5 linked regions of the Homo sapiens genome follow. The protein of the gene in region 1 purifies or fractionates together with the protein of each later gene. This does not show direct contact. Each region holds a gene or a part of one and is shown in the gene's direction. Other genes may lie near its edges. The genes, in order: KIRREL1, EHD3, VLDLR, CRYBB1 and KLHL13.

What was found.
Region 2: the proteins of KIRREL1 (region 1) and EHD3 purify together in Homo sapiens (co-immunoprecipitation; one large-scale study listed by IntAct). This does not show direct contact.
Region 3: the proteins of KIRREL1 (region 1) and VLDLR fractionate together in Homo sapiens (co-fractionation; one large-scale study listed by BioGRID). This does not show direct contact.
Region 4: the proteins of KIRREL1 (region 1) and CRYBB1 purify together in Homo sapiens (co-immunoprecipitation; one large-scale study listed by IntAct). This does not show direct contact.
Region 5: the proteins of KIRREL1 (region 1) and KLHL13 purify together in Homo sapiens (co-immunoprecipitation; one large-scale study listed by IntAct). This does not show direct contact.

Annotation. Positions count from the first base shown.
Region 1 is NC_000001.11:158,094,639-158,097,720, forward strand, and holds part of KIRREL1 (kin of IRRE-like protein 1 isoform 1 precursor), read left to right. Parts: intron 1-5; coding exon 6-482; 3' UTR 483-3,082. UniProt on the Homo sapiens protein: Required for proper function of the glomerular filtration barrier. It is involved in the maintenance of a stable podocyte architecture with interdigitating foot processes connected by specialized cell-cell junctions, known as the slit diaphragm.
Region 2 is NC_000002.12:31,265,132-31,267,554, forward strand, and holds part of EHD3 (EH domain-containing protein 3), read left to right. Parts: exon of another isoform or gene 1-809; intron 810-1,045; coding exon 1,046-1,573; 3' UTR 1,574-2,423. UniProt on the Homo sapiens protein: ATP- and membrane-binding protein that controls membrane reorganization/tubulation upon ATP hydrolysis. In vitro causes tubulation of endocytic membranes. Binding to phosphatidic acid induces its membrane tubulation activity.
Region 3 is NC_000009.12:2,645,787-2,649,309, forward strand, and holds part of VLDLR (very low-density lipoprotein receptor isoform a precursor), read left to right. Parts: intron 1-547; coding exon 548-766; intron 767-1,687; coding exon 1,688-1,806; intron 1,807-2,421; coding exon 2,422-2,561; intron 2,562-2,882; coding exon 2,883-3,024; intron 3,025-3,397; exon of another isoform or gene 3,398-3,523. UniProt on the Homo sapiens protein: Multifunctional cell surface receptor that binds VLDL and transports it into cells by endocytosis and therefore plays an important role in energy metabolism.
Region 4 is NC_000022.11:26,604,518-26,608,040, reverse strand, and holds part of CRYBB1 (beta-crystallin B1), read left to right. Parts: exon of another isoform or gene 1-19; coding exon 20-152; exon of another isoform or gene 153-219; intron 220-3,523. UniProt on the Homo sapiens protein: Crystallins are the dominant structural components of the vertebrate eye lens.
Region 5 is NC_000023.11:117,917,807-117,921,329, reverse strand, and holds part of KLHL13 (kelch-like protein 13), read left to right. Parts: intron 1-959; coding exon 960-1,092; intron 1,093-1,612; coding exon 1,613-1,809; intron 1,810-3,523. UniProt on the Homo sapiens protein: Substrate-specific adapter of a BCR (BTB-CUL3-RBX1) E3 ubiquitin-protein ligase complex required for mitotic progression and cytokinesis.

The DNA of each region.
Region 1 (3,082 bases):
CCCAGGACCCCACCAATGGCTACTACAACGTGCGTGCCCATGAAGACCGCCCGTCTTCCAGGGCAGTGCTCTATGCTGACTACCGTGCCCCTGGCCCTGCCCGCTTCGACGGCCGCCCCTCATCCCGTCTCTCCCACTCCAGCGGCTATGCCCAGCTCAACACCTATAGCCGGGGCCCTGCCTCTGACTATGGCCCTGAGCCCACACCCCCTGGCCCTGCTGCCCCAGCTGGCACTGACACAACCAGCCAGCTGTCCTACGAGAACTATGAGAAGTTCAACTCCCATCCCTTCCCTGGGGCAGCTGGGTACCCCACCTACCGACTGGGCTACCCCCAGGCCCCACCCTCTGGCCTGGAGCGGACCCCATATGAGGCGTATGACCCCATTGGCAAGTACGCCACAGCCACTCGATTCTCCTACACCTCCCAGCACTCGGACTACGGCCAGCGATTCCAGCAGCGCATGCAGACTCACGTGTAGGGGCCAGAGCCTGGCTGGGGCATCTCTGCGGGGCAGAGGAGAAGGCTTTCACAGCTGTTCCCTGATATTCAGGGGCATTGCTCATTGCTCCCTTCTCGGACCAGCCTTCTTCCTCCCACCATGGCAGGTGGGGAGCAGGTCTCCCAGAAACACCCCGTCCCGAGGATGGTGCTCTGTGCATGCCCCAGCCTCCTGGGCCTGCCCTTCCCTCTTCTTCGGGAGGATGTGTCTCTTCTGACCTGCACTCTTGCCTGACCCTAGAATGGGGACAGGGAAAGTGAAGGTTAGGGAAAGCAGAGGGGGGCACTTTTTAGCATTCCCTTTCTATCCCACCCCTCTGATCTCCCATAAGTGGAAATGGGGGTACCCAGGGATGGGCAGGCTTTGGCCTAGGGACATGAAGTATGGGAGTGGGTGGCTGTGGCACAGACAGGTGGAAAACGGGATAGCCTGGCCAGTCCCTCTGTTGTCTGCATTCGTGCCCTGGGTGCCTCTCTCCTTCCTCAGGGTACTGCAGAAGGGAGCGAACAGGGTACTGTTCGCTCTTGTCTACAGAACAGCCCTGGCACTGCATTCAAATCCAGTCTTCATTCAGCTGGGATCAAAATGCCAGTCACCTTGGCTACCCACTGTGGACAGCTGTCTGTCAGCATGCAGAGGGATCCAGGAATCCCCCCGGCAGCACGGCCCGCTTTCCTTCTCCTCCATGCTGGGCCAGCCAGATAAGTCAGGGTCCTGGTGGAGAAAGAAAGGCTAGGACCATGTCCTCATTGACCCAGATACTGCTGTGTGCTGCACAGCAGTGAACCAACACTAGAGGGAGCCACACAAGCCTCCTCTCCCCAGTCTGCCCCACTTCCTGGCTTTAACTCTTGAGCTGGTTTGGGGAGTGGTGAGGTAGGGGTGGGGGTGCTGTAGGCTCTTTTTCAAAGAAAACAAAAAACAATGAAAACCTCATTTGGGAAGAAAAGCTGTAGGGATTCCCCCACCCAAATACAAGTCCCAGTGGAAAGGAAAGGTAGTACCTATTCTTCTCCATGGGGTTCCTAACACCCTCCATTACTCTTTCAGTCTCCAAGCACTTTGAATCCATTTTTAAACATTCAGGTTGCCAGACCTGTCACACAGTGGACTCTGATAGGGTTACGGAGGGGGCCTGGCTCTCAGTCTCTACTCTCCTATGTCCCATCAGTTGGTTGGAGGCCACCTTCCAGGGGGTATGGGAGACAGGTTTTGGTTTTTAAGTGTCTTTTTTTTTTTTCTTGGACCAATCAGATTCCTTCTTCCACTTTCAGTGCCTTGAGTGTCAAGCTTTGGATGACCGACCCTATGTGGGCGGTTGTGTGGGGAGTGGGTACTTGTGAGCCTCGGACACACTGTTAAGTGTTACAGTGTTAGGAGAGAGATGGGTGAGGGGACCTGGAGAGGTAAGGGGCCTGGAAATGGCCCTGACAGAGAACTTGTGCTGACCGGGAGAAGGTGGTGCGGAAGGGCACCGCAGGCATTACACAGGCCATTTCTCCTCCTCCATGTGCACGCACATCCAACACACACCTTCCATGTGACTGCTTCTCAGCCACCACTTTCTGACCAAAGAGAACAGGCGCTCCAAGGAGAACCTGTACCCCTGCCCCAGCCTCGCCTTCCTAAAAAGCAGTGTCTGGAGTTGGCTGTTTCCCGCCTCCCCAGCTGCATGTCCAGCCCAGTGGGAGACAGGGCCTCTGGTGCAGTTCCCAAAATGTTCCTCGCCCTTTCTCCGTGGTCACCATTCATAATTCATGTTCGCTTTAATGAGTTACATGCTTATCAGCCACAGGCCATTACCACCCTTATGGATGGGTCTGGGGGGCGACATTCCTGGCCAACCCCTTGTAGGAAGGACCAGATAATACCCAGGAAGCAAGTAGCTCTAATTTTAACTTCACAGGAAGTCTGTGCATCCTCCTTCATTTCAGCAGGGAAAACTCCTGTGGAGTGGGCCCTATCTGGGGCATTTACAGGCTTCCAGCTGTATTCCATCCCTGGAAGCTGATACCTTTCTATAGAGTCCTTTTATGAGAGCTCAGTGGGAAGGTCTGTCAAGAAATTCAGGTTCTTGTACAGACAAATTCATGCAAATTTCTATTATTTTCACAAAAACCAGAAACCATGGGGGAATCCAAAGACTTGAAGTCTAAAGATGGTGGCTTTTAAAACATGCATATTCCAAAAAGAATTCATTTTTGTTTTGGGTTTGGCTAGATTCTCTTATTTATCCCCTTTTAGCTTAAGTATTAGTTTCATTCTACTGAAATGATGGAGAGAGGGCCTAAGGTTACTAGGTAATTGAGCTGATGGTGCAGGGAGAATTGTTGAGAAAGGAAGCCTAGTTTCCAGAAGCCTGACACAGAGCTACTTCACTGTCCTCTACTCCTTAACAAGGTAACTGGAGCCTCTTGGGTGTCAAACAAGCACCCTGGAAGGCACAGGGAAGCATCAGCAACCAAGGTAGTCTCTGCCCTCTGTAACTTACGTGTTGGTGCATCAGAATCTGAATTGGAACCTACCTGATGGGCCCAGTGGAATAGCTTTTCTGGGGAGTGGAAGGCGTCCTTGATCAC
Region 2 (2,423 bases), on another chromosome or scaffold:
CTTCTGGAATTCCTCCTGAAGGGCCTGCCTGAGGTTGTTTTACTGTTAACATTTTTTTTAAATAAGTAGAAAGAATACACCCTAAAATAACAATAAAAAGTACAGTATAGTAAATATTTACATAAACCAGTAACATAGCCGTTATCATTATCCGGTATTATGTACTCTATGGAAATGTGTGTGCTAGATTTTTATACCACTGGCAGCACAGTAGGTTTGTTTACACCAGCATCACCACAAACACATAATGCGTTGTGTTGTGTACAGTAGCTACAATGTCACCAGGCAACAGGAATTTCCCAGCTCCCTTATTGTCTTCTGGGACCCTCGTCATACGTGTGGTCCCTCATTGACTGAAACATTGTAATGCAGCACATGACTGTATTTTGAAAACTCTCCTCAGGTGACTCCGATGAGCATCCTGATTAAGAACCATAATTTGGGGATGACCTTTGGCTTCTGTTATGATTTGGTTTTAGTACCCTGTGCCCTGTTTGGTTTTTGTTTTTGTTTTCACTAAGTGGGGATAGAATGTGATTTTCCTACCTCAGAAGGGCGCTGGGGGAGTGAACGAGGTAATGTAGTGAAGGCACTTGCGGTGATTTTCAAGTACAGTATAACCCTTATTAAAGTAGAGGCCCACATGACCCAGTCTCAGAGGTACAGCATTCAAGAGACATGATTCAATAGCCAAAACTGACTTAAAGAGAAATGTAATGATTTCCTCTCTGGAATGACATTGAAGGGGATTGAAATAAATAGATCATGCCAATACTTGTTAAATTTCCCTTTCTTCCCCAGCCCCTACAACCCTTCTACCCCCTACTGAAAAATCCCATCATCAGCCCAGTGGGCCTTTATTCCCCTCCTCTCTCATACCTTCGATTACCACGTGATGTCCATCAGCTGAGCCTCTAGGTCACAGGTCTTTCATTGTAGAAAGGGATCAGCTGTGAACATTCTGGTGCTCATAGGAGGCACGTGATAAATGGAGGGCTCTCCTTTCATCGTATCCTATCTTCATCCTCTCTCCTCCTCTTCCCAGGACCAGCTGCAGGCCCAGGACTTTAGCAAGTTCCAGCCGCTGAAGAGCAAGCTGCTGGAGGTAGTGGACGACATGCTGGCCCATGACATTGCCCAGCTCATGGTGCTAGTGCGCCAGGAGGAGTCACAGCGGCCCATCCAGATGGTGAAGGGCGGAGCGTTCGAGGGCACCCTGCACGGCCCCTTTGGGCATGGCTATGGGGAGGGGGCTGGAGAAGGTATCGATGATGCTGAGTGGGTGGTGGCCAGGGACAAGCCCATGTACGACGAGATCTTCTACACCCTGTCACCGGTGGATGGCAAGATCACAGGCGCTAATGCCAAGAAGGAGATGGTGCGCTCCAAGCTGCCCAACAGTGTGCTGGGCAAGATCTGGAAGCTGGCCGACATTGACAAGGATGGCATGCTGGACGACGACGAGTTTGCACTGGCCAACCACCTCATCAAAGTCAAGCTGGAGGGGCACGAGCTGCCCAACGAGCTGCCTGCCCACCTCCTGCCCCCGTCCAAGAGGAAAGTTGCCGAGTGATGGGGTGGGGGGACATTCAGACGGGCAGTGTTAGAGGAGGAGATGGGAGCGGTGACTACACACACACACACACACACACACACACACACAAACATGCACACACACATATGCATATCTTGACATTGCTCTGTAGGTGAGAGAGGACCATGACGCCCATGTTTGCAGCTGATACTTGTTTGGGCACACCTCCAAGTTCTCGGGATTAGAAGGACAAGAGCACTCCCAGGCCCCAGAGTCTAAGCCTAAGTCTCTATCGCTCTTCCCCTCTCCTCGGCCACTCCCCAGATACCAGACCTGAGGCAATTCACTTGCCAGCACAGATGGCCAACCCACCTCCAGATTCCCCAGTGCTTCCACACCCGGGCTCTGAGCAAATGGAAAAGACTTTTCATTTAGTAGACAATTCACTTCTTTTTCTGTGCTTCCCCTATCTGCTTTGGCTTCCTAATAAGAAATCCATTCAAGAGCTAGGAGATCTGAGGGCAGGCGGGCAGCTGCAGGGAGGAGAGGTGAGAAAGGAAGCGTCTTCTAGAGACATTGGCCCAGGAGCTCTGTTCTTTCCTAATCTAAGCCTCTGTCTTCTTCGGCAAACCTTGCTTTGAACTCTGCCAGTATTTCATTTTAAAGAATCCCAGAGCGGGAGAGAGAAGAGAAAAAAATTGATAAGAGTGAGGAAATTGTCCTGTAGTCTATTGAAAACCAGTCAAGGTGGTTTTAGTTCATAGATTTTGTTAGATGTTCTTTCCACCTGGCCTATGATGTTTAGATGTTCATACTTGACTCACATTTACCCAGCCCCTCCTGCGTACCAGGAGCTGTGTTAGGCACTTTATATACATTATTCTATGTG
Region 3 (3,523 bases), on another chromosome or scaffold:
TGTCACTTGGGAAGTGATCTGTGGGATAGTTTGGAGGAGTTTCTTTTGTGTCTAGCCCCATCTAGCATCGAATTACCTGGGGACATTAAATCTAATGCTAATTCTTTATTAAACTGTTATCACTTCCTAATTAGAAACTAACAATTGTCTATGAAGTAAAAGATGACATCTTTCATATTTTTTATATTTTCTCCCTTTTCTCTACAGTTAATTGAGAACTGTTCATTGTTGCTACAAATAGAAATGGTAGTACAGCCTTTTCTTAATGGGAACTATAGAAACTCAGATGATGGATACTGAAACAAATAGCTTCACTTAGAAATTTGTTGTTCTTGTATATAGAATACATACCAGCAACTAGATAATCTACAGCATTATTAATTTAGGATCAGTAAGCAGCATGGTTAAATAATTTGAGTGGTGAGCTGTGGTGTTAACTGGATTTCTTTCTGAACAAAGTCATTGACCATTTTGTAAGCAAAAAGTCCATTCTCCAAGCTCTAATTGTGTCAAACTCTTAAATTTCTTGTGACCTATTCTGTTTCAGTGCCTCAATTGATGACAAGGTTGGTAGACATGTTAAAATGATCGACAATGTCTATAATCCTGCAGCCATTGCTGTTGATTGGGTGTACAAGACCATCTACTGGACTGATGCGGCTTCTAAGACTATTTCAGTAGCTACCCTAGATGGAACCAAGAGGAAGTTCCTGTTTAACTCTGACTTGCGAGAGCCTGCCTCCATAGCTGTGGACCCACTGTCTGGGTTTGTAGTCTGTTTTCCATCACAGACTTTGGAATGGTATCTGTGTAGGTCAGGAGCTTTCTCATACCTGAATTAGTACTCAAATCTCAAGGTTTATGAGCCTTCTGCAACAAAGAATTAGAATTCTAATTTAAGATATCAGTTTTGCCCCAGGTGAGTGACCCTGGGATGTCCTTATCTATATGACAGGTCCTCCTGTCTGACTCTCGTATGACTGATTGCTGGCTGACATTAATGAATTAACATTCCTGATTTGATGTGTGTACCAAAAGCTGTATCTGAACCCTTTTGTCCACCCAGTTTCTACGCAAGTGATTTTTTAATTTTTGACTGAAAGCTTTGCTGGGCTAGCTCTGGATGATCAAACCTAAACGACAGCCTGAATTGTGAGGATTTGGGTAACCACATTGCATCTAAGTGTGCAAGTTGTCTGAAAGTCCAGCAGAAATAAACAGACCTTTCTAGAAACATTTCACTAAGGGGGTTCTGTAAATTGCCACTAAGTAACATAGAAGAGCAGCTCAGGAAGTTGACTAAGGCTGTAGTTGTCATCACAACTGGCCCCCGTGCAGCCTCATTAGAACTCAGTCAGCCAGCCAACCCCTGCTATGAAATTTGAAGGATGTTCGTCTTGCACTCCTCTGTAAGAACTGACCTTTTAAAAAGGAAACATAACCTTGTGACTTTGGGCCGAAATTTAAATGTCAGACAAACATAGATTATTATAGTTAATAATGAGCTTGTAGATTCTTAATATTCAATTTTATTTACCTAGAACATAATTTAGACCCTTAAGTGTTACTATTTGTCACTAGAGAATGCCTTGAGTTTTCTGCTCAAATTTTAAATTTTTGTTTCCAGCTACTACAACTTTATTCCTTCTAAACCACTGAGGCTTATTTCTCATTTAATTTTTCACAGCTTTGTTTACTGGTCAGACTGGGGTGAACCAGCTAAAATAGAAAAAGCAGGAATGAATGGATTCGATAGACGTCCACTGGTGACAGCGGATATCCAGTGGCCTAACGGAATTACACTTGGTATGTATGTTCTTCCTTCTCGACCACCCACTCAACTATCTTCATAGTGTTTCCATTTATCTCCATGGTGAATTCTGGACTAGCAGATGACTCTACTGCTTCCGCCTAAATTCTAGCAGGAATTTTCAATGGGAGTAACTGAACAACACAAGTAAAATGGTGGATTAACAAATTACACATTCCATAATTACTGGCCTGTTGTCCAGCTGGGCCTAATATGTGACACAAATTCAGTGAACGTTGGGTCTTGGGTGCACTCATACTAAATATTCTGGGCATGAGTGCCTTAGCATTTCCTGAATTGCAGGCTTTTAACAGTTTTCTTCTGGCTTTTTGGAGGAGAACAACAAAATGGTAGCCTCTTTTAATATTTTCTGTAATGTGAGTAATATTTCTTAAGTCATTTGCTTTGAGAATCTCAGGTACCCTGTTAGTCCCCAAAAATGAACGTGGATACAGGCTCTGCATGCTGCTTCGCAAGGTTTATGGTGACCCCGTTAAGAAACCCTGCTGGGGAAAGAACCGTGAAAGTAGATTATTAATTCATTAGATATTTTTAATGGAAGCCAGAGTAGTAGTGGCTTGTCATGTAATGACAATTCTTTTCCTACCTAGACCTTATAAAAAGTCGCCTCTATTGGCTTGATTCTAAGTTGCACATGTTATCCAGCGTGGACTTGAATGGCCAAGATCGTAGGATAGTACTAAAGTCTCTGGAGTTCCTAGCTCATCCTCTTGCACTAACAATATTTGAGGTAAGATGTGTCTCACATCAAAGTGTGTACCTTTGAGCTACTATATCACTTTGAGAAGAAATAACAGACATAGCGGGAGGAGGGAAGAGCAGCTGAACATGGCTTGAGAAACTGCTTTCACTTAAAACCTGGTACAAATCAGACACTAAGTCCCAGAAGCACTCCACACCTAAACTTGATTCTTTTACAGTTTTATATCCAGTGTCCCAGTTCAGCATTCAGTAAACTTAGTCCATTAAATGAGAAGTAAATGATGATGACCTTAGAAATGGACTTGTGTTAATCCTGGATGTACATGCTAATTGTGGGCTTCTGTTTTAGGATCGTGTCTACTGGATAGATGGGGAAAATGAAGCAGTCTATGGTGCCAATAAATTCACTGGATCAGAGCTAGCCACTCTAGTCAACAACCTGAATGATGCCCAAGACATCATTGTCTATCATGAACTTGTACAGCCATCAGGTACCGTGGAGAAGCACAGTCCTTAATAACTACTTTAAGGGAAGCAGCATGACACAGAACCTGCTGGATGTCAGTAGCTCTTGGCAACTCAGTTTTCTTTAAAAGGGAACTTTTGCCCTCCTGTACCCTACCTTAAACATTTCACATGTTATTTTTTTATTTCTGCTGCCTCAGAGAAATGGCTTCTCAACTTCAGCTCCTGGCTTTCCTCCCAAGCCTCAGTGTCAGAGCTTTTATTTCTGTTTCATTCATGTCCCCTTGGCCTTCAGCCCCTCTTGCCAAGACTATTGCAGTAGCCTCCAAAGTAGCTTTTGTGCTACAAGCTTTCTCTACTGTTAGTTTGCTAGGATTTTTGCAATGAAGTACCACAGACTATCTTAAACAACAGAAATTTATTGTCTCAAAACTCTGGAGGCCAGAAGTTTGAAATCAAGGTGCCAGGAGGGTTGGTGCCTCTTGAGGGCTGTGAGGGAAGGGTCTGTTCCAGGCCTCTTCTTGG
Region 4 (3,523 bases), on another chromosome or scaffold:
TGGTCCTTCTTGTATCCAGCTGGGTCGCCTTTGAGCAGTCCAACTTCCGCGGGGAGATGTTCATCCTGGAGAAGGGCGAGTACCCTCGCTGGAACACATGGTCGAGCAGCTACCGCAGTGATCGGCTCATGTCCTTCCGGCCCATCAAAATGGTGAGTGGCTCTCCGGCTGGGGCTGGAGAATCAGCCAGGCGGGGCAGGGCAGGTGTAAGTCTGAGATCTGACAAGGGCAAGAAGGAGATGATGGTGGGTAGGGAGGCGTGGCAGCCTCCGAGTTGTCAAAGGACCGTGGATTCTTGAGCTCATCAATTCATCAGTGTCCTTAACACACTCACTACATACCCAGCTAGGAACCCTGGGCAAATGATAAGCACAAAAGCTTCCAAGTTAGAGCTAAAAACTTCAGCATCTTCCTTGATTCTCTTGATATCCCTGGCTGCACATTTAGACCTTACTGGGAGCTTTTTTTTTTTTTTTTTTTCCCAAAGATGGGGTTTTGCTGTGTCCCCCAGCCTGGTGTACAGTAGTGTGATCATAGCTCACTGCAGCCTTGAACTCCTGGCCTCAAGTGATCCTCCCGCCTGGGCCTCCTAAAGTGCTAGGATTACAGCCGTGAGCCACCATGCCAGGCCTGGGAAAACTTTTCAAATTTCAGTGCCCATTCGAAACACCAAACATGCTGGTTGCAGATCATGCAATGGCTAAGAAGAGGGATATTGTAGCCGGGCATGGTGGCCCATGCCTGTAATCCCAGCACTTTGGGAGGCTGAGGTGGGTGGTTACCCAAGGTCAGGAGTTCAAGACCAGCCTGATCAACATGACGAAACCCCGTCTTTACTAAAAATACAAAAATTAGCCGGGCGTGGTGGCGCATGCCTGTAATCCCAGCTACTAGCAAGGCTGAGGCAGGAGAATTACTTGAACCCGGGAGCCAGAGGTTGCAGTGAGCCGAGATCATGCCATTGCACTCCAGCCGGGGTGACGGTGCCAGACTCCATCTCAAAAAAAAAAAAAAAAAAAAAGGAGAGGGATACTGTAGAAACGCAGCTTGAACCTCTTAATAATAAGACAATATACTGAATTAGTTTCTTATAATATTTAACTAAGTCAACTTCCAGAAGATTCAAGGTCAAAATGGTGGCGATATCTCCAAGTGATTCACAGTTTTTTCCAGAATTAAGTTGATGATGAGTCATGAACCAGCTACATCTTACTCACCAATGTTAGTTGCTGATGGTAACCGACTTTTGTCTTCCATGATGGGAACATTTATAAGAATTTTCATGAATGTGCATTTGAGGCTATCAAGTGCCAACCACCAGCTGTTTTGACATCACCAAATTTATCTTAATGGATTATTCAAACAGATCATTCCCAACACTTTTCGCAGAATGTAAGACTGAATTATTTGCCTTCATGATGCACTCTCTGTAAGAATTCACAGATGTCTCTCTCAATCATTGAATGGTTCTTATATGCCAACCTATGTTAAGGGGTTTGTTTGGAAGAGTGATCAACCAGGGCATTTCCAGTAGCTTCTAGAAGCTTGCTATTCAACATAATAGGCAGTAGCCATATGTGGCCATTGGACACTTGAATTTTGGCTAAATGGAGATGTGTCATAAGTGTAAAATACATATTAGGTTTTGAATACATAGTAAAAAAAATTTTAAAGAATGTCAACAATGCATTGATATCATTATATTGGTTACATATTGAAATTATAATATTTTAGGTATATTTGTTTAAATAAAATATGTTATTAGAAATGTTTAGAAATCTCAAAGCCTAGACCCCACCCCAGACCAATTAATTCTGAATCTCTAGGGCTGGAACTCCGGCACTGCTATCTTTTCTATGCCCTCTAAGTAGTCCGTCTGTGCAGCCAGGGCTGAGATCCAACCATCTAATTCAGGGGTGCCCAATATTTTGGCTTCCCTGGCCCACGCTGGAAGAATTGTCTTGGGCTACACATAAAATACACTATCACTAACGATAGCGGATGAGCTTTAAAACAATTGCAAAAAAAATCTCATAATGTTTTAAGAAAGTTCACAAATTTGTGTTGGGCCACATTCAAAGCCATCCTGAGCCACATGTGGCCTGCAGGCCGCAGGTTAAATAAGCTTGGTCTAACCCTTCCTCTCTCTGCCCTGCCACAGTCCTGGTCCAGGCCACCATCATCTCTGACCTGGTCATCTTCAGCTCTCTCCCTGCTGGGTTCCCTGACTCCTTTCCAGCCCCCTGTCGTGGGAAGTTAGAGGGATCTTTTCAAAATAAAAAAAAAAAATAAACCTGACCATCTTCTACTTGAACCCAGACATTTTGGTTGGCCTGTTTCTATTTTCCTTTTTTTTTTTTTTTTTTTTTGAGACACATCTAACTCTGTTGCCCAGGCTGGAGTGTAGTGGCACGTTCTGGCTCACTGCAACCTTCACCTCCCTGGGGCAAGCAATTCTCCTGCCTCAGCCTCCCAAGTAGCTGGGATTATAGGTGTGCACCGCCACGCCCAGATAATTTTTGTATTTTTTATAGAGACAGGGTTTCATCATGTTGGCCAGGATGGTCTCAAACTCCTGATCTCAAGTGATCTACCCGCCTGGGCCTCCCAAAGTGCTGGGATTACAGGCATGAGCCAGTGCGCCCAACCAGTTGGCCTGTTTCTGCCAGGCTCTGGTTCTAGGCTCTGAGTGCAAAACTGTGCATCAAACAGACTAGGTCCCTGTCTTCATGGGACTTAAGCTACCCAGGGAGGCAGCTATCAAAAAGCTAATCATAAAAATCCATCTACAATTGCAAACTGTGGTAGGTGTTACACAAAGGCCATGCAATCTAACTAGGAAAGCAGAAGCAGGAACTGGGGGCTCAGATATTGTTAGAGGTGGGAGTGGTCAGGGGGTCATCAGGGAAGCCAGCTCCCAAAGTTTGGAAACCAACTCAGCCACGTGAAGAGCAGATGGTAAAGCCTTCCAGGGAACAGTGTGTGCAAAACTCCTAGAGCAACGATGGACTGGTGGGACCAAGAAAATTAAAGGTGGCCAACAAAGCTGCAGCAGAGGGAGTGGAGGAAAGAGGGAGGCAAGATGGGAGGGGAGGTGGTGGTGGAGACCAGGGTCTTGTAGGGTCTCATAGGTGGTGGCAAGTTCAGTCTTGACCCCTCTAGCAGTGGGGAGCCATTGACTAACAACCTTCCCAAGGCCCTCAAGACCGTAACAGTAATAAGTAATCATTGTTGTACTTTTACCACTGGCTGGTAATTGCACTAAGGGCATTTGTCTTGCCATGCCCCAAAGGGTCCCCTGTGCTTACATCCCTGCCTGGCACCTTGCACTTGCCTTCCTGCACCCTGGCCACACAGATATTGTCTTGCACATTCCCACCTCCCAGCTTTTGCCTATGCCTTCTCTGCCTCAGTGCCTTCCCTCAACCCTCCTTCCCTTCTCAGCTTTGTGCACTCCTCCTTAACCTCCAAGGTCCCTCTCTAGTGTCACTTCTTCCATGAAGCCTTCCCTGATCTGCTCTGC
Region 5 (3,523 bases), on another chromosome or scaffold:
GGTAAATGGGGTATCCATCCCCTAAAGCATACATCTCTGTACCCACAAAAATTAAAAATAAAAGATAAAAATTGAAAAACATGATGTTTTGAAATATGTGTATGTTGTAGATTCAACCTGTTATAATCTTAAAAGTGATTGTCATTCTTCCAACTTATATCAATAGAACAACTGTCTATTTGTCGTTAGTTGAGACCATCAGGGTGTAGTGAAAAAGCTAATCAACAAGGATTCTTCTCACCAGAGCTCTGTCACTCCTCTGAATTGTGGCTGCTAGCCTGTTAATTCTCCACTAAACCTTTAGGCATTTGGAGACAATTAAGTCTCATGTTGGGGTTTCCTGGGCTTTTTTTTGTTTTTTTTCAAACAAAGATAATTAAGTCTCAAACTTGAAACTTGAAAGATATTTGGCCAGGCAGCAGCAATGTACTGAGTATAGGCTTCTCAAAGAGATGAAGTAATACAATTAGTAGAAAGAACTATCGTGTACTTAATACAGTTGCTCTCTACTTTTCTTTCTCAACCTCCCCCAAAACAAAACAAAACCAAGATGCTTCAGTCAAGCACTATAAAAGGACTATTAAATTATCGCGAAAAGGAATGTTAAGACAGTCTAATACTCTCATTCTGCAGATGGGAAAGTAGAAGTGCACATTGTAATTATTTTTCAAAATAAGGTAAAAGCTGATAATTGTGTAAATAAGCAAAAGTATATACTTTTTCCTTAATCGTTTTTAACCTAAATTAGTCTTAATTTTGTGTTATTCCTACAGTGAAAGAAAACATGCATTGTCACATATCAGGAAAGTTGTGCAGTTATTTTTTCTTCTCCCGAATATTCTGTTGGCTTTATGTTCCACATATGTTGCACCACATTAATATTCAAACAATTTTAGCACACGAAGATTTGTAACCTCATTTTACCTTGATTAGTGACTCAACTCATGTTCTTGTTGTAGGGCTTTGACCAGCTTCGACTTGAAGGATTGCTTTGTGATGTGACCCTGATGCCAGGTGACACAGATGATGCTTTCCCTGTGCATAGAGTCATGATGGCATCTGCTAGTGATTACTTCAAGGCTATGTTCACAGGTAGTTTGCCTTTTAAAACTCTGAAACCACATTAAAACAATATGAAAAATCCGTGTTTAAATCTTTTTTATTTCTAACATGAAATTTGGTTCTTTTGGAAACAGCTTCAAAAGAAGTACACAACAGTATGTATGGTTTTCGGTGGTGCTGTTTTAACATGGAAAATTGATGCACTTTTTTCATACTGTCCATCTTTATCTCACAGCTTTTCTTTTTCAAGCTTATATCTAGTGGGCCATCAGAGACTCTGTGTCCTCCTAGTACAATCTCTACTCTATGTCAAAAAATAGGAAGTGAGAACATTTTGGAAGCACTTGCATCATATATGACCTCCATTAGTATAGAGATTATCTTTTTTAAGTACTTTCTTTTAACAGTAAAATGTGCAGCAGACTGACTCTAATATGACTGCTTATATAAGATAAGACTTTCCTTTGATTTTATTGCATCTAATTAGCAGCAGAAGTGAGTTTGACCATAATTATCCACCTTCATTTAATTGAATGTCTTTTTATTTAAGGTGGAATGAAAGAACAAGATTTAATGTGCATTAAACTTCATGGTGTGAGCAAAGTCGGTCTAAGGAAAATTATTGATTTCATTTATACTGCAAAGCTTTCTCTTAATATGGACAACCTTCAAGACACGCTGGAAGCTGCCAGTTTCCTACAGATTCTGCCAGTTTTGGACTTCTGTAAAGTGTTTCTCATATCTGGGGTAAGATATTTTGAAATCTGATTTTTCCTGTGGTAGACTCTGATGTAGCCTGTTTAGGACTCATGAAATCTGCTGTGCAGGAATGTGAAACTTGCCATTAGACAGATGTGTCTTGTTGTATGTGGTCTGTAAGCAAGGTGAGATTGAAACAGGTGCATTTTTATGAAATAGAATCATTTAATAAAAGCCTCTGTGTTGGCCGGGCATCGTGGCTCACGCCTGTAATCCCAGCACTTTGGGAGGCCGAGGCGGGCAGATCGTCTAAGGTTGGGAGTTCAAGACCAGCCTGACCAACATGGAGAAAGCCCGTCTCTACTAAAAATACAAAAATTAGCTGTGCATGGTGGTGCATGCCTGTAATTCCAGCTACTTGGGAGGCTGAGGCAGGAGAATCGCTTGAACCTGGGAGGTGGAGGTTGTGGCGAACTGAGATCACGCCATTGCACTCCAGCCTGGGCAACAAGAGTGAGACTCCATCTCAGGAAGAAAAAAAAAGCCTCTGTGTAATCAAATGACATGAGATACTAATAATGTTTGATGAAGATATATACTTTAACTGTTTGATAATGGTATGTACCATAATCTGGTTTTATTCACCTTAATGACTATACAAGCAGGCTTCTTAAATGTAATTGAATGGAAAAGTAATCTGAGCTTCTAGAACTCTTTAAAATTTCTTCTTTTAATAAGGGAGCTAGATCTTAAGAAGAACTAATACCTATGGGCAAACCTGTAAGAATGTAAGTCTTGATTCCATAGAAACATATCACCTACTGAATAGTGTTTAGCCATTTTTTAATAGATAAGATAGGACACATACAACTACCAATCGATGGAGTACTTAATGATAGTCACCCAGTTCCTGAAGAGAGTGTTTTATTTTAGTTGAGACCTTTAAATTTTACTTCTGGGGAGATAAATGGCTACATTGGACAGAAATATTGCCAAGACTTCCAGAGGTCTTGGAGCTTGTTTTTCTGATTAAGAATTCTGGCAATATTAATTTTTGGTATATTTTCTAACTCATTATGTTGATGGATATGTTTTCTATAATTTTTTAACTCATATGAATCTTAATATAGGTAAATAATTGCTGTTAGATCTTTACAACTTACATTTTTTGAACATGGAACCTTCTTTAAAACACTAAGTTTCAAGAGAGCCATGTCCTTAATTATTTTATTATTAAGGTACTTAACTATCTTAAAAGTCAGCCAATAACTAATTTAACTGGCCTATTGAAAGTGTGTTTTTTGTATGTTTGATTTTAGAAAACTCAGACTGCTGTCTCACAATTACTTATAAAATTTGAACTAATTGCTACTTTTAAGGGTTTTTATGGCAGCATGGTGCTATATTGTTGACTTGTATTGTCTTCTTTATTGCGAAAGTAGCCCAAGTGAAGTTGGTTAATTCCCATGCTATTGCTTGCCTCCATTACTGAATTTAGGTGCTAAATTTTATTTAAATTTGATCATGCAAGGCCCATTCCCTCAAGAGCTATTAGGATCTCACCTCTGGTTGTGTCACTGGCATGATATAACAACTTCATTTCAAGGAAAAATGAATCATATTGAATGTGATTTTCAAAATGCCTCAAGTCCAGAATTTAATTTAGTAGTAACACTTAAAGCTTGTACTTATAGACTCTTAACATTGCTTTACACTGATCTTAGCAACACATGGTCATCCTGAGCCAAATTAAGGAAAGTGC